Homo sapiens: one gene and its partners. The protein of the gene in region 4 purifies or fractionates together with the protein of the main gene of each other region. This does not show direct contact. Each region holds a gene or a part of one and is shown on either strand. Other genes may lie near its edges. The genes, in order: ABHD17B, UFD1, VANGL2 and SV2C.

Region 1 (7,024 bases), on a different chromosome or scaffold from region 4:
AAGGTGGTCTTTGATTTCCCTTTGAAGTTCTGATGGTTATTTGCATATTCTAGCCTTTGTGCCAATTTTGTCCTTTTATATTACTCAAGAAGTGCGTGAGTTTTGTCTAGGTTATTTATTGACACATGATATTCTTTCATTTCTAGAAACTATGTCTGTAGCTCAAAGTCCTTTTTCCTTTAGTACATTATTTCGTTTATTTTGCTTATCTCTTTCTTGTGATCAGTCTTGTCTGAGTACCCTTTCCACAAAACAGTAGTTATGAGTTTGGGTTACAGAGTCATTCTGTCATGTATCAGTTCCATTGATCAGATTTGTGACATTAGGCAACTTATGTAACTATTCTATGCCTCTGTTTTCTCAATTGCAAAATGGGTGTAATAATAGTCCCTAAAGCAGAGGATTGTTGAAAGGATTAGTTAATATGTGAAAAGTGTTTAGAATAGTGCCTGACACTTTGTAAGTGTTCAGTTAATGCTATTTGCTATTAGTAGTAGTGGAAGCCTTTTCTGAAATCAGCTGTTGGTTCTCCATTGCTTTTTGTTCTTTGTTTTGTTGATATCTGCTCTTAATTTTCTTTTTCTTGTTTTCTTTTTGTTTACTCTCTTCTTAAGTTGGACACTAATATTTAAAGCTAGACTTTTGTAATGGATAATTGTAACTCCTTTAGATGTGCCCTGCACTATCATTTTTCTGATGATTATATCTGACTTATTAAGAGTCATGCTTATATTCAGGCTTTTCTTCTATGTCTTAAGCTTATCAGTATCAGTAGCATCCTCAACAAGTCAGGTACCCCAGCACATTTTTACCTCTTAAGTAGTCTCTCTTTTGTCAATCCTCTTCGTATTCATATTCACCAAAGTTTTTGTTCTGGATTTTTAGGGATATACTTTGTTGTCTTCACCCTCCTTGCTCCCATTGCTCACTTGTACAAAAAACATTGTATTAACTATTCTCCTTTATTTCTCATATCTCAGATATCTCATAGAAGTCCCTTGGGATTTGGGGGGTTTTTGTTTGTTTTGTTGTTATTGTTGAGACAGGCTCTCACTCTGTAGCCCAGGCTGGAGTGTAGTGGCTCTATCACAGCTCGCTGTAGCCTTGACCTCCCATGCTCCAGCAGTCCTCCCACTCCAGCCACGCCAGTGGCTGAGATTACAGGCACACACTACCATGCCCAGCTAATTTTTGTATTTTTTATAGAGATGGAGTTTTGCCATGGTGCTCAGGCTGGTTTTCAATTCCTGGGCTCAAGCAATCCTCCTACCTCGGCCTCCCAAAGTGTTGGGATTATAGGTGTGAGCCACTGTGCCTGGCCTTCCCTTGGATTTATCTCCTTCCCTCCTTGCTGGAGTTTTTCAAAGAGAGACTTGATTTGGTTAAGTCTTACGAGTTTTTGTGGGCCTGCAGATCTCTCTCTCTCTTTGTTTTTTTTGATAGAGACAATGTTTTCCTATGTTGCTTAAGTGGTCCTCCCATCTTGGCCTCCCAAAGTGCTGGGATTACAGGAGTGAGCCACCACACCCAGCCCAGATACCTTTATCCTTATATTAAAACTGTATTTTTGTTCTATGTACAATTCTAGGTTAAAAGTTTGATTTCATCTTTAGCTTAAAATTATCTCTCCATTGTCTTTTGGCTTCCAGTGTTTATATTAGAAAGTCATATGTTCATCTGATCTTGTTCATTTTTAAGTAGTTTGTTGTTTTTTGGTACACTTTGAGGTGTTTCAATCTGACTTTTTTTCCCCCTTTAATTCTGAGAAATTCTTAAATAGTCTTATCTTTATTTTCTCCTGGAACTTCTATAGTATGGATAGTGATATTTCTACTTCTATTTCTATCTATTAAATTTTGTTGTTTTCTGTCTCTTAATTCCCACAAAAAAATTCCATATTTGCAAATTACTCAACCTGATCTTTTAGCTCACTGATGTGTTTTTCAACTGTTAACTGCTCAAGCAATCCACTGCGTCTGGCATGAGTTTTATAAGAACAAGTTGGACTTGAAATTATCTAAGTTTAACAAGCTATTTCAGTGATTTTTTTTTTTTTTTACAGAATAAAATGTTTTTCTTCAGTAACTTGCTCACACTATACTAAAACCTAGATTTATTTGTTTTGTTTATAGTTTTTGTGAAATTTTTCAGACTTAAAAAGTATTCAATTAACTTTTGAAAGTAGGTCTGTGTTGCTGCCCTATACCAGGCCTCTTATTAGGAAAGTGATCATTTGCAAGTTGTTGTCATTAAATAAGCCCCAGTTATCTGGCTTTTGGGCAGTGGAAGAGGGGAGTCATTCTGTCAGCATTAAGGAAGTGAAGTTGTCATTAAACTAGACCCTGGCACTGCAGTTTTTCTCCTTTCTGCTTCTCTCCTTTGGTGTTCATCCCCAGAAACTTCTTCACAGCATTATATATGTTCAACCAGCCAGCTTTATTTCAAAAGTAGTTTATTATAGTGTATGAAAGTTTTTCTGCTGGGTGCGGTGGCTCATGCCTGTAATCCCAGCAGTTTGGGAGGCCAAGGCAGGCAGATCATTTGAGGTCAGGAGTTCGAGACTAGCCTGGCCAACATCATGAAACCCCATCTCTACTAAAAATACAAAAATTAGCTGGGCATGGTGGTGTGTGCCTGTAATCCCAGCTACTGGGGAGGCTGAGGCAGGAGAATCACTTGAATGTGGGAGGCGGAGGTTGCAGTGAGCCAAGATCGCACCACTGCACTCCAGCCTGGGCGATAGAGTGAGACTTCGTCTCGAAAAACAACAACAAAAGTGTTTCTGGCTAAGAGATAAATTATAGGACTATAGTCTAGATACGTACCATTTACTTATTAAGCTTTTTAAAAGGCTATTGTGGCTCAGCAGTCAATGGTATATGAGGTAATCAGGGTTGACAAATAACCATAGACAGATATTAAACAGACAGCACTGATATTATACCTTGTACCTCATCATCTTTCTGCAGGTCATTTCCTCCTCTGGAACAGATCCTTTGAGTTCCTTCCCTTTCATCTTCTTCAACAGACACTTTATCCTCCTGACCAGGATAGTAAATTTGTAGCCAGAGTCTATAGTAAACATCACTAATTTATCACATCTTTTGCTGGCTAAGCCCTGTGTATGCCTTAGAATCATTCTCAGCACAACACTTCAGGAAGCCCTCAGTTAAAGTTAGCAGATGACACTTAGTTGTTATTTCTGTCCTATTTCTTGTTCCAACCAGAGTAAGCCATTAACTTATTCAGGCTGTATTTTGAAGCCTAAAAAGAAATAAAGGTAGGAAGCAATTAAAGCATTTCCTAATATCCAAGATGTTTTTCTGCCCTTCCCTCACCTTTTGAAGTCTTTTATGTTATACCTACCCTTGTTCCTCTCTTCCTGTGCTTTTTTCTGCTGCTTCTTATAAACACATTTATACTGAGCATTATAGGATATATTTGATTCTGTATTGAGTGAAAAGGGCATTTTTTCCCCCAGATATTCTCAACCATTTAGTCACTCTGTTGAGTTGTTTTCTTCCCATTTTTGGTGTAATAGGGTACTTTTTTCCCCCTATTCTTATATTTAGATTTTTTTTTTTTCTTTTTGGAGAAAATTGGATGCCACCAAACCTGTAAGGTGTTGGTTTTAAATGCCTTTTCTCTGGAACTAAGCAATGGCCTAATTTTGCTAAAAAGAGACAGGAATTTGAAAAAGGACAAGATAGAAGGAAATACTGATAGAACTAACAAGTATTACTTTATTTTTGTCCCTAAGTTAAAGTGTGACAATGATATGGCCATCACTCACCGTATGTTGTATGATGGGCCTTCACTACACCAACATTTGATATTCACAACCAGGTCCTTCAGTGTAGGTATTGGCCTTGTTTACTTATGAAGAAAATGAGAGTCAAAGAGATAGTTTGCCCAAGGACATACAGCTGGCAAACGGTAAGTGGTAGAGTTAGGATTTTACCCCAGCTTCCTAACTTTAAACCTTGTACTCTTTCTCTTCCAAACATTTAGAAAAGTTTACCTTTAGTAGATTTTACCTTTTTTCCACAATAAACTTTATATTATAGCCTTTTTAGTTTGGGCAGTAATTACATACATACATACATGCATGCATACATACATACACTTTAATGTTCTATAGGTTATTTGGGCCACTGGCACTGTGACCAAAGTGATAGTCTTCTGAGCGTGTTCTGAATCTGTGAGGCAGTGTAGCCCAGTAACATAGTGTAGTGACAGCCTGGAGTCAAATCCTGGCTCCACCACTGCCTCATCTTGTGCAAGTTTCCTTTCTCACAACAACTTACACAGTTGTTCTGAGAATTAAACCAAGTAACACACATAGAGCACTTGGCACAATGCCTGACAAATAGCTTCATAAATGCTATTAGTATGTATTCACTTTATGCTAAATTCCTAGCTTCTCCATGAGGTTCTAAGAACTTTTGCTGAGTTACATAGAAATTACAGACTACACTAAAGATATTTCATACCTTCAGGTTATTTGTAAAGAAATGGCAAATATTACCTTTATCATTTTTGACATTTATGTTAAATGAGATAATAATCACTGCTATTTGAAACCTGTCATATAGGATTTGAGTCTGTCTGCTGGTCAGGAATATTTGCCTCACCCCAGGATTTAAAGTACTTCTAGAAAGAAGCCAAAGGCCGGGCGTGGTGGCTTACTCCTTGTAATCCCAGCACTTTGGGAGGCCGAGGTGGGTGAATCACCTGAGGTCAGGAGTTCGAGACCAATCTGATCAACATGGAGAAACCCCATCTCTACTAAAAATACAAAATTAACCGGGTGTGGTGGCGCATGCCTGTAATCCCAGCTACTTAGGAGGCTGAGGCAGGAGAACCACTTGAACCCGGGAGGCGTAGGTTATGATGAGCTGAGATTGCGCCATTGCACTCCAGCCTGGGCAACAAGAGTGAAACTCCGTCTCAAAAAAAAAAAAGAAGCCAAAAATCTGTTTGGAATCATACCTAAAATAGTAATAGTCATTAACCACCAATAAAATTTACCCATGTCTGTGTTTTAACTTTTTATTGTATGAGTCTACATTCAGTTATTAAAATATTTGCTATCTCCTTTTCTTTTTCAGAGCATGAATAATCTTTCATTTAGTGAGCTATGTTGCCTCTTCTGCTGTCCACCTTGTCCAGGGAAGATTGCTTCAAAATTAGCGTTTTTGCCACCTGATCCAACTTACACACTGATGTGTGATGAAAGCGGAAGCCGTTGGACTTTACATCTGTCTGAACGAGCAGACTGGCAGTATTCTTCTAGAGAAAAAGATGCTATTGAGTGTTTCATGACTAGAACCAGTAAAGGCAACAGAATTGCTTGTATGTTTGTACGTTGTTCACCCAATGCGAAATACACTTTACTCTTCTCACATGGAAATGCTGTTGATCTTGGTCAAATGAGCAGCTTTTACATAGGACTAGGATCACGGATTAATTGTAATATATTCTCATATGATTATTCTGGATATGGTGCCAGTTCCGGGAAACCCACAGAGAAGAACCTCTATGCAGACATTGAAGCTGCTTGGCTTGCTCTTAGGACAAGGTAAATTGTGGTTGGAATTTATTTTTCATACTCGTGGTGGTTAGCTAAAAATATCTTGTGTAAGAATAGAATAAAAGCTGTTTTTATTATACATAACTGCTATATAGAGGTTATATTTACTATTATATACCTGTGAATAAATATTTTAGACAGCAATTTTAAATTTCACATAATAGCAAAACAAAGTTTTTAAAGACAGTTTCAGGTTTGTTTGTCTACATTAATACACGTATATATGTATGTTTTTTTTAACTTAAATTCTTAGCTGGAAGTCCATGGTGCATGCCTATAGTCCTAGTTACTTAGGAGACAAAGTCAGGGGAATCACTTGAGGCCAGGAGTTTGAGGCTGCAGTGAGCTATGATCGTGCCACTGCACTCCAGCCTGAGTGACAGCGTCAGACCTCATCTCTTAAAAAGTTAAAAAAAAAAAAAAATTAAATCCAGTGACAAATGTTTGGTTTTTGTAAGCTTTCTTATTGGAGTGTGATATAAAAAATGTTTATTCAAAGCTGCAACCTTTCAAGGAAATGAGAGAAAATACTGACATAGCTAATTATTCACTTGATCTGTCATTAACAGTATGAGGCTGGATTGCTTTCTATTAAAATCTTAAGCCAAGATTTGCATTATTTTATGTGATTACTTCTTGGGAAGTACAACTTAAAGATACCTTATTGGAATTATTTTTCAAGTATTCATTCTGTAAAACTGAGATTTTACTTTATATTCTGTGTTCCTAAAATTGGGAGAGATTATATCAAGTTTAAAAAAATTTTTTAGGCTGGGTGCGGTGGCTCACGCCTGTAGTCCTAGCACTTTGGGAGGCTGAGGCAGGCGAATCACAAGGTCAGGAGTTCGAGACCAGTCTGGCCAACATGGTGAAACCCCATCTCTACTAAAAATACAAAAAAAAAATGTCTGGGCGCAGTGGCTCATGCCTGTAATCACAGCACTTTGGGAGGCTAAGGCAGGTAGATCACGAGGTCAGGTATTCGAGACCAGCCTGGCCAAGATGGTGAAACCCCGTCTCTACTAAAAATACGAAAATTAGCCGGGCACAGTGGCGGGTGCCTGTAATCCCAGGTATTCGGGAAGCTGAGGCAGGAGAATCACTTGAACCTGGGAGGCGGAGGTTGCAGTGAGCTGAGATCACACCACTGCACTCAAGCCCAAGTGACAGAGTAAGACTCTGTTTAAAAAAAAAGAAGTTTTAATGTTATGATAAATTGTTTAATAAAATTTTCTTACTATGTCAGTTATTCTTTGATTATAGCAGCATACATTTTGGGGAACTAGAAATTGCATTAATCTTTTCTAGTCACCAAGATACCTAAACATTTTTCTTGAAAAAAAAATCACAATTTGGTAGACTTCAGTGTATTATTAGTCAGGTTAGTGTACAATAAACAGATACCTTAATATAGGCTATTCTTTATATTAT
Region 2 (7,024 bases), on a different chromosome or scaffold from region 4:
TTTTTGTCGAGATGGGGTTTTGCCATGTTGCCCAGTCTGGTCTCAAACTCCTGGACTTAAGTGATCCACCCACCTCAGCCTCCCAAATTGCTGGGATTACAGGTGTGAGCTACCACACCCAGCTTCAGCTATCTTTTTTATTAACTTTATTGAATTGTAAACAGAGAACACTTTAATTCTAAACAACTCTCTCAAGAGAGTAAGTCTAGGCCAGGCGCGGTGGCTCACATCTATAATCCCAGCACTTTGGGAGGCTGAGGCTGATGGCTCACCTGAGGTCAGGAGTTCGAGACCAGCCTGGCCAACATGGTGAAACCTCGTCTCTACTAAAAATACAAAAGTAGCCGCAAGTGGTGGCACATGCCTGTAGTCCCAGCTACTCAGGTGGCTGAGATGAGACAGGAGAATTGCTCGAACCCAGGAGGTGGTAGCTGCAGTGAGCCAAGATCGCGCCACTGCACTCCAGCCAGGGTGAGACAAAGAGAGACTCTCTCAAAAAAAAAGAGAGTAAGTCTAAAGACTTACTCTTTTCCAACATTTTAGATGTCATTTTTTAAGCTTCATACATTAAACATTATTACTGCTTTATATGGCAACATTTACCCTGGATTCATATTTGCCAATTTATTTATTCCCTATTCCTTCTTGCTTTCCTTCTAGGATAATGCTTATTCCTAAAGTACATGCTTTTAAAATTCCATTGGTAAATAACCTCTCTCAGATTTGGTTCATCTGAAAATATTTTCACTTTGCCCTTATTCTTTAAGGAAGGTTTTGATGATAGTTACTTGATACTGGCTGTAACTGTTGCTATTCAAAGACCTGCTACTTGCTGTTCTTCTGAAGGTACTGTGTTTTCTCCCTGCTTACCTCTCTGTATTTGGTATTTTCTACCTGTAGCTTATTCTGTTTGTTATACATTATAAATTTCCTGTCATGATGGGCTGACCACCAATTCTAAATCAATTTCAGTTACCATCTCTTCAGATTATTGCAATTCCTCCATTCTTTCCTACTGGGATTGCAATGGGCATGTTTGACTTTCTCAGTGTCTTCAACATCTCAAGCTCTCATATGTTCCATCCCCTTGCTCCTCTGTGTGAAATTCTGTTATTTCTTCAGATTCATCTTTCATTAACTCTTTTATAGCTGTTGTTTAACATTGTTTTTCAAATCTTTCTGGTTATTTTTGATAGCCTTTTGTTGCTCGCTATTATAATTCCATTTTAAAAAATATCTTTGAACATTTTATATCTAATTATTTTACATTTGTATCTAGAAATTCTAATGCTGATTTCCTTAGGGATCTAATTTTTATTGTCTCTGCTTTGGTGTAGTTTAATTATGTGTTCTTTGCTTGTTCAATTGACAGCAATCCCAAAGACGTAACTAAACTGGAGTGCTTTTTCCAGAGAGGATCTGTTTATTTCTCCTGAGACAATGACAACACCCACCTCTGTGTATATTTTACTGCTTTTAAGGGTTCCCGTTCAATCCTGATCTCTGACTCAGATCTCCCACTAGAGCACTGATATGGCCATCTGCCCTCAGGGCAACCCAGCTTAGAGTGTTTAAAATTCTCTATAAGCACAACAGTACATTAATCAGAAGGGCCCATTAGAGGATCTAGTTTTCCCTACTTCTAAAAGTGGAAGTTCAAACCTGTGTTTCAATTTTACATACACTCTTATATAATGTACCCTCCCTTAGAGTGCAAAGTATCAGTACTATCCTTTATCATCAGTTTAGGAGTTATATGTAGTATTACTACCTTAACATTAAAAACAATAACATTAAACTGCCTGTAATTAATTATAAAAGCTTAGAGTATTCAGTTAAGGTAAACGATACCTAAAATGTTCTCCACAAAGCTAAAGGGAACAAGATTATTTCTTAGTTTATTAAAAGGAAAAAAGAAAGTGTGATTCGAAACCCAAGGAACTGAAAAATAAGGTCAGATGCCTCAAATATGAGGAAACTGCCAGAGAATAAGCTGGATCCCTGCACTGACACCAAGGGAGTAACTGGCTAAACCACAGGCAGCTGTGACACAGCTGTGACGGCCCAGTCCCCGAAGGGACCAGAGAGTGCTGTGAAGGAGCTAAGTGCTAGCTTCAGGGAAAGCCCAGCCAAGCCAGGCTGTGGTCACTCCCGAACACTAAGGCTAGCCCTGGCAACAGCTCTGTGGGAGGGTCAATTGTCAACAGTCACAGTGAACAGGGGCACCCATATTACTGTGCTCCATGCCTGTGGTGGGACAGCCTGATGGCAGGATTGCCAACTATTACATCCTCCTGCAGGCATATTCCCATAGGTAATAGGAAAGTGAATGCTTTCTTGAATTTTGGACTAAGTCCTGTCATTTCACTTTACAGTTAAATTGTCTAGATCCAGACACCTAAACAGCATAAAATCAGGGATGAAAACAGAGGCATTCAGACCTGAGAGACTTGTGTCAGAAAGGTCAAGCCTAGAGAAGCTGCTAAGTGAAAACGGAAGCTGAAGAAAACAGGAGGTGGAGGAGGATGTGGGCTCCCAGGAGGAGAGGTGAGCCTAGGAGGTGTTGCCCTAAGGCAGAGCCAGGCTTTGCTTCTCAGATGCCACACAGCACTTGGCCCCACTGAAGGGCCTGTCAGCTTCTGTGGGGCAGGTATCCCAAGGACAAGGACCCAGCAGGGTTGTTATTGTGTCTCCACAGCCCTGCAAAGGGCTTAGCTCAGATTAGAGGTGCAGTGGGGACCTTTCAAACCAAGACAGAACCAGCAGCCTTGCCACCAAGGTACACAGAGGTATGACTAATAAGTCTATCAATGTTCCCCTGTAAATGCAATCTATCCTCAAAACAGAGTTACCAAATGAATTAGGGCTCTAAATATGAACCCGGGAAAACTTAATAACCAAACAGTAGGCAGTAATTAGGTGATAAGATCCAGGCATACGCTGCTTAAAAAGAAGCCCCATTCAAACATTAGAATGGACACTGCAGGTGGCTCTTGTCAGGAATGACCTGCATGAACTGGGCTCACCTTTTCATTATAGTTGATGGCAATCACATCCCCGGTGGTCAGACAGGCAAAGTTCCTAAGTGCGTTTTCTAATCTGCAGACACATTCTGTCAAGGCAACATGGCAAGATGGATACCTTAATCTGAAACAAGTTTCCATGTTAGATGATTACTGGTAGGTAGAGACTGTACCATGATGGTACTTGAAACACGAAGCTTTTAATACAATAAAGTACTACTTGGCAATAAAGAAGGATGGAACTCCTAATATGCAATAATATGGATGAAATGCCAAGCTGGGGTAACAAATGCCAAGCTGGGGGAAGGGGAAATAACCAACCACAAAAGGGCAGTGAGATTCCATCCACATGGAACCCTGAGAAAGACAGATCTATGAGGATGGGAGGTAGCTGAGAGGTTTCTGGGCCAGGGGATCAGGTGGGGACTGACAGGAAAGGACCTTTTGGGGACATGGAAATGTTCTGATTACATGGGTGTATACATTTTCAAACTGGCTGAACTGTGTGCATTTTATTGTATACAAATTATACCATGGGATTTTAAAAAATCCTGTGGGAGTACTAAAGAACAAAAAAGATTTAATGAGTCAGATAGGTCCTCTCAAAAGTTCCTCAAAATCAAAGATGCTTTCATTTATACTTCTGTTGTTTCTATCTTTTGAGCTGATAACTTTAGTTAATAGAAATTAAAATAAAGAAACCAGCAAATACTTTTTATAACAGTAAAACTGTAGAACCCAAATGCCCACACAAGGAAATGTCTATTCATGTGGAATATTTTGCCATGTCTTCCTCATCAATTTGCTGAAGGACTTTACATAAAAAGGTCACATGAAATGTGGCTCCAGAGCCTGCCACTGTGAGTCCAACTTGAGGGTGAAAGGGTGAGGCTATCTAGGTTCACCTCGCTTGGTCAAACAGCTTTCCAGAACCAGAGCAACTTTGTGAAAAGCGCCTTATGTGGTGGATGCTTTCTTTGCTCCCAAATATGAAGTGCCACGGTACGAAGTGCCCTTCCCTCCACTCCTCTAGTGACCCTGCCAGGGCATCTTCTCTGACTTCCACTGCAGCAGCTGGAGGAGCAGAGCCAGAGCCCTCAGGCTGAGAACACGAGGCCTCTGCAGGCAGGGCGGGCTCCCCATATGGCCTCTGCGTACTCTGGCACCTGCTGCAGCACCAGCTTCCCACTTTCTCTGCTCGGTGCCAAGACTGCTTTCATCCAGACCTCAGCCAGACCAGAAAACACCAGGCTCTCAACTGATGGAAGTGACGCCCTTTCTCCACACACTAACAAGTTAATTGTGCTGACAAAACAGCATCTGAGATCAACCTGATAAGTCTGCATTGGGGCAGGGCGCGGTGGCTCATGCACGTAATCCCAGCACTTTGGGAGGCTGAGGCAGGTGGAGCACCTGAGGTCAGGAGTTCGAGACCAGCTTAGGCAACATGGTGAAACTCCGTCTCTACTAAAAATACAAAAATTAGCCGGGTGTGGTGGTGCACACCTGTAATCCCAGCTACTCAGGAGGCTGAGGCAGGAGAATCACTTGAATCTGGGAGGCAGAGTTTGCAGTGAGCTGAGACCGTGCCACTGCACTCCAACCTGAGCAGCAGAGTGAGACTCCGTCTCAAAAAAAAGTCTGCATTGCAACACATGTAAAAACCCTGAGAAAATGGGCATGGCCCATTCCTGGTCACTGACAGCCAAACAAGCATGTCTAGGTCAGAGCTCTGAAGGACAAGTTAACTAGCTCTTCCCATAGGACATCCCCCTGCCTGTGGGACAGGAGGCTCAACAAGGCCATCGTGTCCAGAACATAGGCAGCAAAGAATATACATGGCCCATATGCATCCAGAGCACACCCAGCAGTGCCTTGCTCCTAAGAAAACATGCGGAGAGAGCGCTACTGGGAAAGGAGGCAGCTTTTCTTAACTTCCTATCTGTCTGTGTTGTTTGACTGTTTGTTTTTTTTTTCAAGTATGCATTAAAAAAAAATAAAAAAAAAGAAGTAGAATGGAGTGGCCACTCTTATGCCATGATCGTAACAGGAAAAATCAGGGCCATGGAGCTAGAGATCTTGATTGGTGCACACAGCACCGTCCCGTACCTGCACTGCCTACTTCCTGATGCTGTCAACACATACACCTGGCTTAAGTTCAGAGGTGAACAAAAAGAATCCACTAGAACCTGATACCTTTGCTTTCTGCTTGGTGACATAGAAACTGCAGTCATTGCTACCTATTGGCCTGGAGTGAATCAGCTCTCAGGCTGGCATGCAGTGAGGTTGACGGGCCAGTGCACAGCTGGGCGGAGGTACTAGGGAGCCACAGAAGGGGCTGGAGCTGAAGGCAGATAAGCTGCTCCCTCCTTCCACTGGACATACTGTGCATCCTGGCTTTGTGCCAGGTGACACAGACCAACTGAAAGAAGGGCTTCATTGTGGTCTCCATGAAGTGTCTGGAAAGTGACAGAGGTGGCCCAGACAGCACCCAGTGCACTTGGCCAGGGCCACGCAGATGTGCTAGCTGAACCCCATTATTCTCAAATCACAACTTGAATCACAAATGTGTGATCCCCAAAGCAGGCACAGATTCAATACAGTACATGATGTTTAACAACCGCCAGCACACTCTCCTTTGTCTAGAAGAACTCCGCTTATTTGAAAAAGATACACGGCTTTGGGGTTGGTGATGTCCAGGAAGTCAGGGCTCTGAGGTTGGAATTTGGAGTAGGTGGCCACTTGAAGGTTGACGCTCTCCACCTGGACCAGGCCGCCTTCTTCCAAGAGTAAGTTCTGCATCATCTGAAAGGAAGAAGAGGCTACATGAGACTCCTAGAGATGAAGCAGCCTCCACAACCACTGCTCCCTATACACTGGGCAGGCCCGTCTTACTTGGGTCCTTGGAAGAGGAACCTGAGCCAAGATAAGTAATTCGTGATACTATGTCAGGAAGGAGGGAAAAATCAAGTGATGTGGAAGGAAGAAGGCCAATAAAGGGGTGCTACTGAAGCTGTATAGCTCACAGTGTGAACGCATCTCTGCAGGGCTGCCCGGATTACTCACTAGCTCCAGGCTTCCCAGGGGCAGAGCATTTTCCTGGAATAGTCACTCACTGTACTTCCAAGCTGTCCCACAAGCAAATTATAAGGCCCTGCGTCAAGTAGGGCTGCACCTGAGGTAGGACAAAAGCAGCACAAGGCAAGGCTGACCTGGCAATGGAATGGCCCACCACAGCTGAGGCTGCAAGATGGTGACAGACCCCAGAGGTCTCTGCTAAGGAGGTTATAAAAATCTGACAAAGCCTCCACATGTCTCTATTAAACAACCCAGCCAGGTAGACGACGGCTGAGAAGTGAGACGGAAAGAGATAAACAATGCCCATGAGTACTGGGTGTGCAGGGAGTCCAGACTCAGGTCAGAAGCTCTATGTCTCTTGCAATGAAATTTTGCTTGTCTTATTTGAAACCGTCTTAAAAGGGGTGTCAGACATATACATCAGTAGAAAGAGCCGTAGAAGAGAGCTCCCACGCACCGAGCCCTGACAGTTGGACAGTGCTCACGTCGTGGCTCAGTCCATCGATCAGCACTACCTCACACCCAGTCCCAAGCCACATTAGATGCCCTGAAGCAAATCCCAGGTATCACATCCCTTCAAGAATGTTTCATCGGGAGTGGCAGTGAGAAGGTGACTTTAACAGCCAAGGGAAAAGGGGGCTGAGGGCTGTGTCACAAATGAGAGGGAGCTCATGAGGAGGGAGAGGCATGCTGAGGCCGAGGCTGTGCCTGGGAAGCCGTGCCTAGGCCATGAGTGAAGCCTGAGTGGTGGGCCCTATGGATAGGCTTGCAGAGGACCCCATGCACTCACGCTGACAGCTGCTTGTCAGGCTAGTAAGGGCAGAAATAGAGGGTGGTCACTCTACCAAATGCCACAGGCAGGCACAGAAGGATGCAGAGGTGACTGGCTTTGGTAACGGGGGTCTGGCATCCCCAGGAGTGAT
Region 3 (7,024 bases), on a different chromosome or scaffold from region 4:
CAGCACCCCCATGTGTGGCGCGTGCTGGGGGCCGATGACCAGACGCAGGCAGCTCCAGACGCCACCTCCTGCCACTGCTCTAGCCCGGGCCCACCCCGCAGCCCAGTCCCGGCTACTTTAGGCCTGGGGTGAGGTAATGAGACAGAGCATAGATGCAGACGGGGCTGGGAGAAAGAGCTGTGGAAACCAGGGTGAGTAGGCCACGGAAGAAAAGGGGGGCAGGGACAGAGCAAAACATGTACCTAAAAAGGGCACCTAGTGTTCCTCATCTCCACCGAGGACAGGGCTGGAAGCAGCTGAGAAGGGTGCTTGGGTTTGATTTTTAAAAGACTTCCAGCCAGACGGGAAGACGATGGGAAAGAGGACAAGAAGCCTCAAGTTCTCCTCAGACAGGGGCAGAGATCTCTGATAGGACCATTTTTCTCTCCGTAGTCAGGGACTAGGGAAGGGTGGTTCTGCCTGAACACAGGGAAATGGGTGTGATTACTGCTTCAGAACCTGCCTGAAGAGTCGTCTGTGGGCCCCTGCCCACTAAAGGTCTCCGATTCCTACTCAGGAGCCTGGGTCTTCCTGCATATGCCTTGCACCCCTTTCCCACTGCAGCCCGTGGGCAGGGGTATGCATGTGGGCACCCCCTAGCTGCCTGGCTCCCTAATCATCACCATCCATAGTGCCAAGGTCCAAGGATATCAATATAAGTTCCACTCAAAGTGCTGGAAGCCCACCTTCAGCCATGGAGGTGGCAAGAACTAAGCCCAGGGTCCAACCTCCCAGCCCAGGATCCCAGGAGCTAGCTCTCCGTGCTAGCTCAGAGTACAGTCAGAGTACCTCACCAAGGCCTAAGGCCAGTGCAAGGCAGAGCAGAGACTCGAGACACAGCTGTCGCACTTCAGAGCCTTGCTTGGTTTTCCTCCTTGTCACACACCTCCCCTGAGTTTCACAGATGTGCTCAACCCAGGCAGCGCTGTCAGGCCCTGGTGGGGGGCTGAAGTTGATGGGTGTGGGTTGAAAATGCAGACATCCAACACAGCTTCCACAGACGGAAGGAAGGTACCTGAACCTCTGACTATGCCCATATCATTCCCCTGACACCCCTTCCCCTTTCCCTTTCCCTTTCCCTTTTCCCTTCAGGAGGACACAGCTGGCTGAACCACCCTCTTCTCAGCAGTTCCCAGCACCAAGCTGAAAGGGGCCTTAGAGGGACAACCTCAAATTTTACAAATAAAAAAGTGGGACCCAGAGAGAGAAGGTGACTAGCCCATGGCCACTACTTCTACGGCAGCCCATTTCTGGCCTCCTCTAATTGTTGGAAAATCGTAGTAACACTGACTTTGAGGAGTGCTCCTCTTGGAGTGAGACCAGGTTTCTCCATGAGACTGCTCTGGACACTGGTTCCTTGAGTAGCCACAACTGCAAGAGGGCCACGACAGGAGAGGATTTGCTGACTCCGTCCTGCCCCCTCTTCTCACCAGGGACAAAGAGACAGAGACTAGACAGGCCTCAGCTAAGACAGCCAGAACCAAAGAGCCTCTATCCCCAAAAGGGGTGGTTCCTGCACCCATCCATCTACCACAACTAAGAACCTTGATGTTCCTTCATCCCCATCCAGCCTTGGGCTATGGGCAAGCCACCCATCCAGAGAGGCTGGGCTTTTGCTATCACCGAAAAGACTAAGGTACAGAGTGGGCAAGGACCAGCTCCAGCCCTGGACCAAAAATAGGATGAAGATTTTGCCCTGACCCTCATTCCTAAACCCTGAAAAAGGCTGTCCTTGGGTGACAGTGCTGCCCAGGAGGCCAGAGAGAACAGCTGTATCTTGGTGGGCTGAGGGGTGGGAAGGGCAGAGCAGGGAGCCCAGGAGCTGGCACCAGGTGCCCCACCCCCGCCCTGTTAACCAGGCATTCTCCCAGGACAGCCCCAGAGATGAGCTCACCATCCTCATAGCCCCAGGGTGGGGGCAGGATCCTTCTCCTCACTGGGCTGAGTGGCAGAGGAGGGGTGGGATCCTGGCCATGCTTGTGTCATCCAGGCATCTAGGCTTCCAGAGCAGCTTCTCACCAGCAGACCCCAGTGCAGGGTGCACCGCAGGGGAAGGGCCCACAGACTGGGCTCCTGGCCAGGATACCTGAGCTTGCATTCTACCTCAAAAGCAGTTGGGGAAGCCAGAGCCAAGCCCCTCTCCACCTACGTCCTGAATTTCCCTCAGTCTAAGGCTGGGGGTGAGGCCGAGGACCTCTAAATCCGCAAACACACCAAAATACCCACCCATACGCATACACACCCACACTCTGTTCCCCCTCTGAAACCTGGAATCACTCCTGCCTGCCCCACCCAGCTCCACCCACCCTGGCTAGGCAGGTTCTGTAGAGACCTGCTCCGCTGTCTCTCTGGCACCCCCACCCCCATCCCAGCTCCCAGAAGGTACCTGCCCCCCAACACAGCACACAAAAGCAGACACGTGTGCACATTCATGTCCCATAGCACCCCATTCCCTAGCCTTCCCCAGACCCATTCCTAGTCCGTCTTGAAGAGAACACTGGGGGTGGAAAGGCTGCAGGAGAAAAGGTGAGTAATGCCCCTGGCATCTGTCCCAGGTGGGGGCCGGCGGGAAGACGGGACACTAAGCTGGTGGGAAGGCAACCAGGGCTTCTGGATTCTCCATTTAATTTTTACCAACAGGCAGGCCCCACAATTTCCACCACCAGGCTTTGAGCTGCTTCCTCCCTTGGCCTAGGCAGAGAACTGGCCCGTACCTGCCCACCAGGTGAGCTGTGGAAGAACCAAGAAGGAAAGCAGGCAGCTTGAGGTGTCTTCAGGGAGAGGGTGGACAATGGGAGGTGGGTGAGTTGTGCTGACCCGTAAGTCAGTGAGTGTCCTGTACACTCCAAAAACAAATGCCCCCCTCTTCCTAGCCTGCTGCTCGAGGTAGGCCCCAACTGTCCCTGGCCCCAAAAGACCTTCAAAGCCTGCTCACCCAGCCCCTGCCCTGGGGTGCAAAGATGTGAAAAGCAGCTAGTTGGGAAGGGGAAGTTAGCCAACCTCGGGCTTGCTGTGGATGGGGAGAGTTGAGCTGTGAGGATGGAGTGTGAGGGAAGAACATATGGGGGCACTGTCAGCAAAGGCTGGATTGTAGGAAAGTGGTAGAGTGGGCCTCAGGGTGTGAGATGCAGTGTGACTGGGGATGAGGGTGGCAGGGCTGGGTATCCCCATCCTGAGAACCTCCTGTTGCCTCAGCCCAATGCCTTGGATCTGGCAACTTGGCCAGTTCTTATCTAGAAAACCAGATCCAGCTGAAAGGCCCAAGTACCAGCCGGCCTCCACCATCGCGACCACCCCCCTACCTGAGATTCTCACTCTTTGCTGAAAATTCTCAACTCTCCCATCCCTTATATCTGCCACCTCCATTCCTGAAGTAAAGCAGGTGTCAAAATGCATGTTTTTGTTCACAGTCTGTTGTTTTTTAAGTGACTGCATTCACACTTCGGGCTCAGCACCTGTTCCTATCTAAACCCTACTTACCCTAAAAAACCAGACCCCCTGGGCCGGGCGTGGTGGCTCACGCCTGTGATCCCAGCACTTAGGGAGGCCGAGGCAGGTAGATCACCTGAGGTCAGGAGTTCCAGACCAGCCTGACCAACATGGTGAAACCCCGCCTCTCCAAAAAATGCAAAATTAGCCAGGCATGGTGGTGCATGCCTGTAATCCCAGCTATTCGGGAGGCTGAGGCAGGAGAATCACTCGAACCAGGGAGGCAGAGGTTGTAGTGAGCCAAGATCGCGCCATTGCACTCCAGCCTAGTCAACGAGCGAAACGGTTTCAAAAAAAAAAAAACCAGAACCCCCTCCCTAGACCCACAAACAAACACACCCTCTCTCTCTGACCAGGCTGAGGGAGCCAAGAACACTCTGGTGAAAACAGGAGTCTGAAGGACATTGTTAGGGGCTGTGAGAAAACCCTACAGACAATAAGGACCAGGCTCCTCCCATTCACAAACAAGACCCCACGGGCCATGGTGGCCGGAGCCTACAGTCACTCCTTTACCCCAACCCCCATCCAAAATCATGGCCCAGCAAGGAGAAAGAGACCCACCCCAGGAGAGGTTTCTGCCCAGATGCTGGCCCCGCCCCAGGCTTATGACACCAAGGTGCTCCTCCTGGAGATGAGATCGTTCTCTGACTCCCACCCTCAAGGGTAGGCTTCTCTACTCCTCAGGCTGACACTGGACTCATGTTTGCTTTTCAGAAAACAGGGGAATTACTCAAGTGCAAGATTAAAGGCAATAATGAGCAATCAGACCGAACTGGAATGACAGTAGGGGAAGGTGAAGAGACTTTGGGAAAAGGAAGAGCACTGAAGTCAGACCTGGCACAGCCTTTTACGAGCTATGTAATCTCAGGTGAGTCGCTCCCCTTTTCCAAACTTCAGTTTCCTTATCTATAAAATGGCAATAATAGTGCCTACTTCAGAAGGTTAAGAGTTTTCAGCAAAATAATGTATGCAGAATATTACAGATTCTGGCACACAATAGATGCTTAAAAAAATGTTAGTTCCCACCTTTTCTCCTTTAGTGGGTCCACAGCGAATCCCCTCCACTTCCTGCTCCCATAACCTCACTGTAAGGAGAAACACCCCAAAATAAGATGGAACCACCTCTAGGTGCAGGGTTGTCCCTGTTCTAAATTAGACCACATCCAGGTACTGCCTGAGAGAGCAACCAACATGCCTCTTCCTCCTCTCTGCTTCTTTCTTCAGAGGCCCTTGGATCCCCCACCTTTCCTCCTCTCCTTCCTCCTTCCTCACTTACAGTAAAGCAGACCTGGGTTCCAATCACCTCCCACTCTCCTCTAGGCTCTAAGCCCAGCTGTGTGTGGAGCGGCAGGGGAAGGAGGCCCCAAGCCTCCCACCCTACCCAGCCCCCAGCTTCATCCCACTCTCCCCTCTCCCTGCCCCACCCTGATTACCAGGATATCCTCAGGTCTGCTGATTCCAAGCCTGCTTCTCTCAAACCAGTTCCCAGCTGTTATGTCTATAATTACCAATCTTGCCAGGGGCATCCGACAAAGCACAGCAAAACCTCATTTCCAAAGGGCCCCACCATAAAGGGCCTCTGCCTCCTACTCTGTACCAAGCAGGGTAGAGACAAGGAATGCAAACATTCTCCCTGGCCCACCACAGTTCTATCCAGACTACAACAGAGAAGGTGAGAGAGGGCTGCCCAAGCCACATCACCAAGAGACAGGATAAAGAAGGGGAGGGCCGCCGTAGGGTAGAATGTGAGTAGGACTTAGTCCCAGGCCTTTCCTTCACCTCTGCTGCCAAAATCTCATCATGCACAGGGTTACCCACCTGTGGAAGGTAAAAGGGAAAATTTCAGGTCAATTCAGAGAGAGGGGAAGCTGATGTCAAGTGAACAGGGAGATGGCTCCCCACAAGGATGAGGGTTGATGCATACAGGAGTGAGCTGCCCAGGAAAGAGGAGGAAAGAGCAAGTTTTAAAAGTCCCATCCCCAGCCCAGACCCTGAGAAGAGGCAATAATACCCTAGCCTCTCTTCTCCCCTAATACCTCCAACTCTACCAAGCCCATAGCACAAGCAGGAAAGGGATGATTAACTTTGTTTTATAGACAGAGAAACTGAGGCCAAATCCCCACTTCATACTGCAAGGTACAGGACTACCAAATACCCTGTGTGCCTTCTTGCTCACGCTCAGCCTCCACCAGGAGTGCCATCCTAAGACCCTTCCTGTTGGCCTAACTCATCCTTTAACCAGGTAAAGTCTGTCCACACAAGGGAATAATATTCAGCTATAAAAGGGAATGAAGTACTAATACATGCTACATGCTACCGTGTGGATTAACCTGGAAAACATTATGTTAAGCGAAGGAAGCCAGATTCAAAAGGTCATGCATTCTATCATTCCATTTGTATGAAATATCCAGAATAGGTACATCCATAGAGACAGGATGCAAATTGGTGGTTGCCAGGGGCTGGGGTAAGGGGAAATGGCGACAATTGTGTAATGGGTATGGGTTTTGTTTCGGGATGGTGCAAATGTTTGGGGACTAGACAGAGGTGGTTGTTGCACAGCACTGTGAATGTACTAAATGCCACTGTTCACTTTAAAATGGTTTATTTCCTATTATGTGAATTTCACCTTAATTTTTTTAAAATCCAGCTAACAGGGCATCTCCTGCAGGAACCTTCCCTGGCACCTCACCCCAGGGCCAAGCACTCTTCCTCTATGCTCCAGTGGCCTCCTGAACACACCTCCACACAGCACTCACTGGGCTGCAGTGAATCAACATGTTTTCACATGTCTCCCCTGGGAAAACATCTTATTTGCCCCTCCATCCCCTGTGCTTCACACTGTGCCTGGCAGATAGGAGAGAGTGCCTAATGTGGTCGGCCAAAGGAAGATCAGAACCAAAGCCTAGTTCTCCTATCCCGACTCCGACCTCTCTCCCTTAATGATGATTATCCCTCAGAATCCGAACCATCCAGCTAACATTTACTATGTGCCAGGAACTGTGCAACGTGCTTTCTCTATTATTTCATTTAATCCTCATAACCCCAAGAAGTAGGGCCTATTATTAATTCCATTTTACAGGTGAGGCTTCAAAAAGTTACCAGTTTTGTCTGATGTCACGGAATTAGACAGTGGCAAAGCCAGAATTTAAAAGCAAACCAGGGAAGAAAGCCACTTGGTGGGGGACCAGGGATTCCTTGTGGAAGGGCTCAGTCTAGGCTTGGAGGATGTGCCTTAAGACACCTAAGAGGCTGGGGAATGGGGTTTATTACTTGCCCAGATCACACCACTGTTAAGTACTAATTCCAACCAACTCTGACTCCTTTCTCTGGCCTCACAATGTGATGAACACTTGAGGGAAGGAGAAGACTGGAGTTCCCTAAAACTCAGAGGGGATCAGATCTCTTCCTTTTCCCTGCCAAAGCTTCTGTTAGTCAAGTTCCCTCCCCATTAACTGGAAGGACCTGGAAACCAGATGAGCAGATAAAAAACTGTCCT
Region 4 (7,475 bases):
TTAAGGAGCCATTTTGACAAATCACATGCTTTTATTCATACAATATGTCATCAAGTTTGCTTAAGAATAAGAGATAACACTCCTAATTATAGGAAATGGGTTTTCTGGTACTTGTCGTCACGTGATATATTGCACATTATGATGCCTTTGCCGTAATCTCCTGGAGACTGGGAACTGGATCCTATTATTTGAAGCATTTCCACACTTAAGGAATATGATAGGGTTAATAATGAATAGGAGTTTTACTACAAGCTGTTAGGCCAGTCTGCTGCTCAGATCAGAGAAGCTACTTTCACTGTCATTGGGTCATGAAAAATAAAGCTGATTTCTCCACTACATGAACAAAACACTCAGATGTGATCCAGAGCTTCTTTTTTTCCTTCTCCAGACAGTCAGTAGCTAATGGCATTGGATTACATATTAGACTGTTAGGAAAAGTCTGCTGTCTGCATTTGCTCACATTGAGGGCCAAATTTCATTAAAAAAACAATGCTGGGAAAAGTCTCTAGAATTTTTTAAAAGAAAATTCTGTGTGTGTGTGTGTGTGTGTGTGTGTGTGTGTAGGGGCTTTGTTTGCTAATATTTTCCATTCATGGAAAATTTGTATTTCCAAAGCCAAAGCTCTCTGAGATTATCTCTTTTGTCTTCAAAACAACCCTGTAAGGTACATAAGAGCTAGTATAAGCTATTTTTCACAATTCTCAGAGGTGGAAGATGAACCCAAGAGGGTGAGTAACCTGCCCAAGGTGACATAACACAATATTTGGGGAAATGGTGACTAGCATCTGTGTCTCTGGGTTCCTTGATAATTGCTTTTCTTCCTCCCTCCCTTCCTTTCTTTCTTTTTTCCCAACCCCGTCCCCTTTCATTCATTTTGCCTACATACTGCAGATTTGGGCTCCTTCAGTAAAGCCAGTAGAAAAACTTTGTCACTGGGTTTCCAGAAAGTGGTCTTTAAAAAAAAGAATAAAATGGATCGTGGATTTGATTTATTATTTTCCACCAGAGAATGCGTTATCAGTAGTGTTTTTTAACGCGTATTTTTATGCCATGAAAGAGGAATGCGGCATATTGTTTTGTAAGACATTCTTAAACCTCACTTAGAGGCCAGGCCTCCTGCCAAAAATCCTGCAGAATGGTGGCGCAACGGGTTGGCACTACAGAACCTCACGAACCTCAACACCTAGGCGTTCACATGAAAACTTCCCACGAGCACGAGGCCTTTCGGAACTTGCCATGGAAAATGAGTGAACGCCTGAGAGATTAATGCCACATTCTTCAGAATTAAGGATAAGAATTAAACGGAAGCTACCGCGCTAGCAGTCAGCTAAGTATGAAGGGATTAGGTTCAGCGGGAGAGGAGACCATCACGGCATCCCGGTCTCATCTCCTTAAGGCTCTCATGAGCCTTAAAAGACGCCTCATCTCCTCGGTCCCCCGGGGAGCGCCCGGTAGCTGCGGCTCCTTCCCGGCACTGCGGCGCACTGCGGAGCCGCCTGCCCGCCAGCCCAGGCCGTGCGGGGCTTTCCTCGCCGCCCCGCGCCGCCGCAGTCCTCCCGCCCCCCTCTGCCCCGCCGGGTCGCCGCTCTCCGCGCCAGGCGCGCCGCGGGGCATCCATCAACCCAGAGCTTTTGACGCACACACGCGCGCTCCCAGACGGAGACTCCGTCGCCTGCCCCCGCCCGCCACCCCCGCCCGCCCCTCGCGGGTCTGCATTTGCATCACTCGCACACGTAGAAGGTGACGCGAGCGCCCCCAGCTCAGGCCGTCCAGGCGGCACCTCTAGCCCCCGTGGCTCAGCCCCTCCCCCCGCCCCCGCGCGCCGCCTAAGGTCCCCGCACGCCCACAGATCTGCTCCCGATTGTTCATCTGCCGTGGGGTGCTGGCTGCCCCAAGCCAAGTTCATCCCCGTATTCCGCAGTCCCCGTGGGCCCAGCCCGGGGCGCTCCCCGCGACGCTCTGGAGAAAAGTCTTCCCAGTTCTAGAACCCAGGCGGAAGGGGAAAAGCCCACTAAGAGAAAGGGTCAGAGGGTCGGCTGATGGCTTTTGCTGCCCTCATCGCCATCTAAGATTACCTCGGTAGCTTATTTACTGCGATTGGTCCCTCTCCCCTCTGAGCTTCACAGCCTCGGGTCTGCTTCGCCTGGCCTGGCGCACAGCAGGCGCCCAAAAGGTTTTTGCTGAATGAAGGCGTTGTAACGTAGGAAGTGCAGGCGCTGACAAAGAGCCTCAGCCCCGCGGGCTCCCCTGCTCTCCAGCCCTCTCTTGCTCTCTCTTAGACGCCAGACAGGCGCTTCGGGAATGTATGTGGGAGAGTTTGAAAATTCATGGTGTTTCTTTCAGGCTCTCTCAGCACTTACTGCGGCTACCTCTGCTCTCCCGCCACCTGCACGTCTGCAGAGGGATCCCCGCCGAAAAGTTGAGCCTAAGGCAGCTATGAAGGTATAGGTCCAGGTACCCAGCCCGGGGCTCTAGGCTGCTAGATTTGAATCTGCCTATCCCTGCCGGTCAAACCACACAAGCAAAAAAGAGCGTGGCGGTCGCTGCAGATGCGGCCCCTGCATCCCCGCTGCTGCCCACCCACCTCCTCTGGGAATCCCAGATAAAGTGCGACCCAGTCCCCAGACCTACCCTAGCGAACCCTGGGGTCACTGCATCTATTTTACCCCTACTTTCCTGGTCCCTCTCCAACAAAGGCGCCTACAAAGCAGCGGGCACCTGCAGCCGCTTCCCCGGGGGCAGGCGGGGCAAAGTTGCGCTTCCGAAAGGCTGCAAAAACTTCCCCAGGCTGCAGCGCCCGGCCACCAGTCGGGAAGAGAAATCCAGCAGCGGGGGAAAGTCTCCCCGCGGATGCCCGCTTCACCTCCCCCACTCACCGCTCCAGCCGTCGGACACCCTTGCCCTGAGTGGTGTCAGCACTGCAGCCGCCTCAGTGCGGGCGCCGCTCCGGCTCGCTTCCCCGGGCTGCCTCCGTCTGCCACTCTCGCCTGCAGCGCGCGGAGTGGTGACTCCTCTGAGCGTGTCAGCGGCGAGAGGAGGGGCGGGAAAGTGGCTCCCGGCTTGCACGCTGCGGTCCTCCTCCTCTCCTCCGCCTGCCTCCTCCCCCTGGTGCTGCAGTGCCGGGCGGCGGCGTGGCGAGAGTACCAGCGGTGCGCAGGGAGTCACGGCGCGCGGGGGAGGCGGGACCCGCGCGCCACTCGCGGTGCTCCGGCAAGTCGCGGTGCTGAGGCGCTGCTGCGGTGTGGGACTGGGGCAGGGGGCGGGGAAGGAGAGCCACCTCCAAGTGGTAGGTACTTCTGGAGAAGTCAGGGCTCTGAGTTTGTAGCAGGTGAAGGAGAGGGGCGGCAGTCCTTAATTAGTCACCAACTGTGACTGTGCGTTGCGCACTTGGCGGCGCCCCGGGTCAGGTCCAGCGTGAGACGCGAGGGAGTTCTGACTGCTGGACTCTGTTAGCACCGGACAAAAAGAGGGTTTGTATTCTATTTCCGGGCCTGGGACTGACTTGTTCACTTCGACTTGGCTTCCAGGGAGCAACCAGGCAGAGCTAGGTTGCCTACTTCCCCCAGCCCCCACCCCGACGCTGGAAGACAAGTCCAGAGGAAACTTGGGCACAGCAAGAGCAAACAGAAGAAAACTTCGCTGGGTTAAGTCTACTGTCTCCCCAATGCTACATAGGGCCAGACAGCTGGGCTCACAGGCAGATATTGAAAGTGGCCCCTTAGAGGGGAAACAACCAAATATGAGGGGGGGGGGGTGGAGAGAGAGATAGAGAGAGAGAGAGGAGGAGGAGGAAGAAAGAAAGAAAGAAAGAAAAAGAGAAAGAAAGAAAGGAGGAGGAGGGAGAAAGAGAGAGGAGAGAAGAGAGAGAGAGAGGGAGAGAGAGAGAGAATTTTGCTTGTGTTGTTAGAAACAAACATTTCTCCCCTTGGCGTGCAGGAGAGAGAATTTTGCTTGTGTTGTCAGAAACAAACATTTCTCCCCTTGGCGTGCAGGAGACCCCAACTCGAGCTTCACTGTTCCAAAGCGGTGGGCCAGGCGGCTGGAGAGAAACTCGCTCCCGTGAGGCCACACCCAGGCCTGGCGCACCCACCCCGCGGCAGCAGTGGAGGGCGTCGCCCTCCCGGGCCTTCCGACGCAGACCCTGCCATCCGGATGCTGCGGGAAGTAGGGCATCCTCACGTCCCTGACTCCTCCGGCTCCGCGCGCTCACGGAACCCAAGTGGAGTGGGAAGCGGTCACACAGGCGTGTGCCGTCCCCGAAATCGTTGCTCCTGTGGTGGTGACCCAAAGCGAGACAAAGCGCCGCGCCAATACGGGCTGCAGTGATTGGAACTCAAACACACACATCTCTCCGCGAATGTGTTCCATCCGTGTAAATATGCCTGGGTGATTGAATGGATGGCTGAATGAACGCTGTGTGGATAGAAATATAAATGTTACATGTATAATACAGGCGCCGGGGAAGGAGAGCTGTCAGGCACCCCCAGGCTGGAGCCTCCTGCCCAGAGGAGCCGGTGGAGACAGGCGGTTCGCCCAGGGCGGTGTTGTTAGCTTGGGCTTTCCAGTTCGATTTGTGCCACTATGCAGGATACTGTGAAGAGAAGAAAATGGAGACAACTCTTGGCCTCTCATTTTCCCTCCTCTCTGGTTCAGACACTCTGGCACTAAAAGTTATGATTCTCATGTGCTGTTGAACCTACACTTCCTTGCTGGTCTGTCTTGTTCCGGTGAGAGGCTTTGCAGTCTGTGACCATGGTGCTATGAGATGGTCAGGCAATATGAAAATTAGTGAACGTGCTCATTTTCATTTCGTGGATTCTTCTTAGTAAAATAATTATTTAAATAGTTAAATAATTTAAATAGTTAAATAATTTAAATAATTATTTAGGCTAAAATTAATGTGCTGCTACTATGACAAGGAAGTGCCTATGAATCCAGCATTGGAAATACAATTGTGAAATTAAAAAATAAATCCTATCTGGATTCCCCGCATGTTATTTATAAAAATTTGAGCTTCCAACTGCAAAATGTGCTGGCAATTCACTGAGTTCTCAAACGGTTACCTTTTTGAGAACCTCCCCTAAACTGTTGCAGAATAATGGATTGTTTCTCCAAGTGATGGAAGTTCAGAAAACCATGAAACAAACTTTAAACGTGATCAACGTTCTTTATGCTATGCTGTATCTTCCTTAAATTATTCTCCTATCTTGTCCGTGGAAGATATTTTTTTAAAGTGGGTTGATTTTTCTACTTCTGGATTTTCGTGTCTTGATGCATTTGAAGGTAACAGCTCCTTTAGGAAAATCCCTGATTGTGATTTTGCCTGAAACATCCCATTTAAGACCAGGTTGCACTGGAAAAGGCTATTTTAACGTTGTGTCTTTGGAGGACATGAAACATTGTGTCATGATGATGTTGTGCCCTGGTTCCTGGACTTGCCCTCTAAAGCAGTTCTGGTTCTAGGGTCCTGCCTGGCACACACCTTGGCCCCAGGCCCCTTGGATCCAGCACTCAGACTAGTTTTATTCATGCCTTCATTATAATGAAATGTTTTCTCTCTTCTGAAAACACTTGTCTTGTAGAAGCGGATGGAGTGAAAAGGGGTATACCCTCCATCCCCACAGAATCCCAGTACTCTAAAGTCATTGCTCTCCTACACCTCAGGACTTTTGTTCCTCAATGCAGGGTGTCGTCTTGTGATGCTAAAAAACAAGCTGTGAAAGACACCTAATGAGCATGAGAGGTCTGTTTTCGCATCAGCAAAGTGGTTTTCATAAAAATAATTCACACTAAGTACAGATGCTATAGTGGTTATATTTTATAATATACACAAGAAGCACAGTGCCTAGTACACAATGGGTATAGAATAAATGTCAGTTGCTCTTCCTCTTTTAGTAGTCAGGGCAAGGTTTTCCAAAGCCTGCGCTTTGGAGAACTGGTTTTGTAAGATGCTCTGGAAAGTCAGAGTTACACCTGGCTTCCACAGCAGATGTCTGAAGACAGCCCCATACTCTTGGACCAAGTCCACACAGCTCTCCACTTCTCCTCACTATCATCAGGAGTCTATAGCAAAGTGCAGACACCTACTCTTCTTACCCCAACACTCAGCTTCCACAACACTCAAAACTATTTTTTGTCTCTTTTGTAATTTTAATCGAAGTATTACTATTCATTTTTTTTAAACTCTGTCTTATAAGCACCACATTTTAATATCTAAGTCAATATTGGGTGAAAGAAACACCACCAAGAACTTCCCTCCAGAACAAAACAATGATGTTCATTCCTCCAAACATCCAAATTGAAAGTCTATCACAACCAAAACAAAAAAACAAAGCCCACGGAGAAATAAAAAGTAACAAAAATCACATTCTAGGGTGTTAGTGCATTTGGCAGTCTTTGCTGTGCTGTTGAACCATCCTTCAGCTGGCTTTCAAAAAAAAAAACACCCTAAGCTCATCAAAATATACATTTGCCATTTGCTTTTTAAAATTAAAAATAATAATTAAAAAGAAAACTTCAAGGAATTCACAATCAATTGCCTGACTTGTTTCAATGTCATGTACAGCATATGGAAGTGAAAAAGGCCATTTGCAGCACCTGTGATTAAGGGATATTCATCTTCAGGGTTTAGCTTTCTTCCAGACAGCGTAAAATACCCACAATTCGAAGTTTGAAGGGACATAGACGATCTCCTTTGAGAATTCCACAAGGCAATACAGGCACCCAAGCTGTTCTTCATAGAGTGGCAGGGCTTCTGTCAGATTGACACAGTTTGCCTGTGTAAAATATTTCCCATCCTGTTTCAATACATTCATTCATGGGTCAAAAATCAGTCTGAGAAACTCCCACATGGAATCTTGTTCCAGAGATGTGGAGATTGGAACAGCTGTCAAATCGTTAGTCACACAATCCAATTCTCTCCCTTCTTTGGTGTGCCTCTTCAGTATTGGAATGCAGTCTTCTATCAGAGCCTGATAGCAGCCTCCTTTAAGATTGTCTACAACATCACCACATGTTTTTTGCATATATTTCTTACATCCATCAATCACCATTTGGTCAATCTCTACCATAGTGACCATCTTTGATTTTAGTTTGACTATTTCTCATAATATGCCCCCATCTCAGCCTCTGAGAAGCAGTACCTCTTTGCCAGTGAAATCTGCTTTGCTGCTGCCCGTGATGGCCCAGGTATATGCCAAATCACTCTGCCGAATCAACATCCCTACTAAGGATGAGAATATTTCCAAATTGCTTCTAGTGTAGAATTGTAATGTTCCAATAAGGTGAATCTTCATTGTACACCACTTCATCTATGTCATATTCAACCAGGCGCCCATCGGTGGTGGACCAATGTCTGTTGATGGCCCCTCTTCAAACTACAGGTGGTAATCGCTTCACCAGCCCAGTACTGTCTTGACTCAATTCTTTCATTCTTTTTTCTACATTGTTTGAAAGGCTGTCGATCTCTTCTTTGC

Evidence for each region.
Region 1: the proteins of SV2C (region 4) and ABHD17B purify together in Homo sapiens (affinity purification with mass spectrometry; 2 studies listed by BioGRID and IntAct, with this or other methods). This does not show direct contact.
Region 2: the proteins of SV2C (region 4) and UFD1 purify together in Homo sapiens (affinity purification with mass spectrometry; 2 studies listed by BioGRID and IntAct, with this or other methods). This does not show direct contact.
Region 3: the proteins of SV2C (region 4) and VANGL2 purify together in Homo sapiens (affinity purification with mass spectrometry; 2 studies listed by BioGRID and IntAct, with this or other methods). This does not show direct contact.

What each region holds. Positions count from the first base shown.
Region 1 is NC_000009.12:71,873,171-71,880,194, reverse strand, and holds part of ABHD17B (alpha/beta hydrolase domain-containing protein 17B), read left to right. Parts: intron 1-5,111; 5' UTR 5,112-5,114; coding exon 5,115-5,581; intron 5,582-7,024. UniProt on the Homo sapiens protein: Hydrolyzes fatty acids from S-acylated cysteine residues in proteins. Has depalmitoylating activity towards DLG4/PSD95. Has depalmitoylating activity towards GAP43. Has depalmitoylating activity towards MAP6. Has depalmitoylating activity towards NRAS.
Region 2 is NC_000022.11:19,462,176-19,469,199, forward strand, and holds part of UFD1 (ubiquitin recognition factor in ER-associated degradation protein 1), read right to left. Parts: intron 5,829-7,024; coding exon 5,698-5,828; intron 3,100-5,697; coding exon 3,027-3,099; intron 1-3,026. UniProt on the Homo sapiens protein: Essential component of the ubiquitin-dependent proteolytic pathway which degrades ubiquitin fusion proteins.
Region 3 is NC_000001.11:160,403,544-160,410,567, reverse strand, and holds part of VANGL2 (vang-like protein 2), read right to left. Parts: intron 6,665-7,024; exon of another isoform or gene 6,176-6,664; intron 4,441-6,175; exon of another isoform or gene 4,243-4,440; intron 2,765-4,242; exon of another isoform or gene 2,680-2,764; intron 2,566-2,679; exon of another isoform or gene 2,313-2,565; intron 2,113-2,312; exon of another isoform or gene 1,934-2,112; intron 1-1,933. UniProt on the Homo sapiens protein: Involved in the control of early morphogenesis and patterning of both axial midline structures and the development of neural plate. Plays a role in the regulation of planar cell polarity, particularly in the orientation of stereociliary bundles in the cochlea.
Region 4 is NC_000005.10:76,078,914-76,086,388, reverse strand, and holds the start of SV2C (synaptic vesicle glycoprotein 2C), read right to left. Parts: upstream 3,007-7,475; 5' UTR 2,877-3,006; intron 2,174-2,876; exon of another isoform or gene 2,076-2,173; intron 1-2,075. UniProt on the Homo sapiens protein: Plays a role in the control of regulated secretion in neural and endocrine cells, enhancing selectively low-frequency neurotransmission.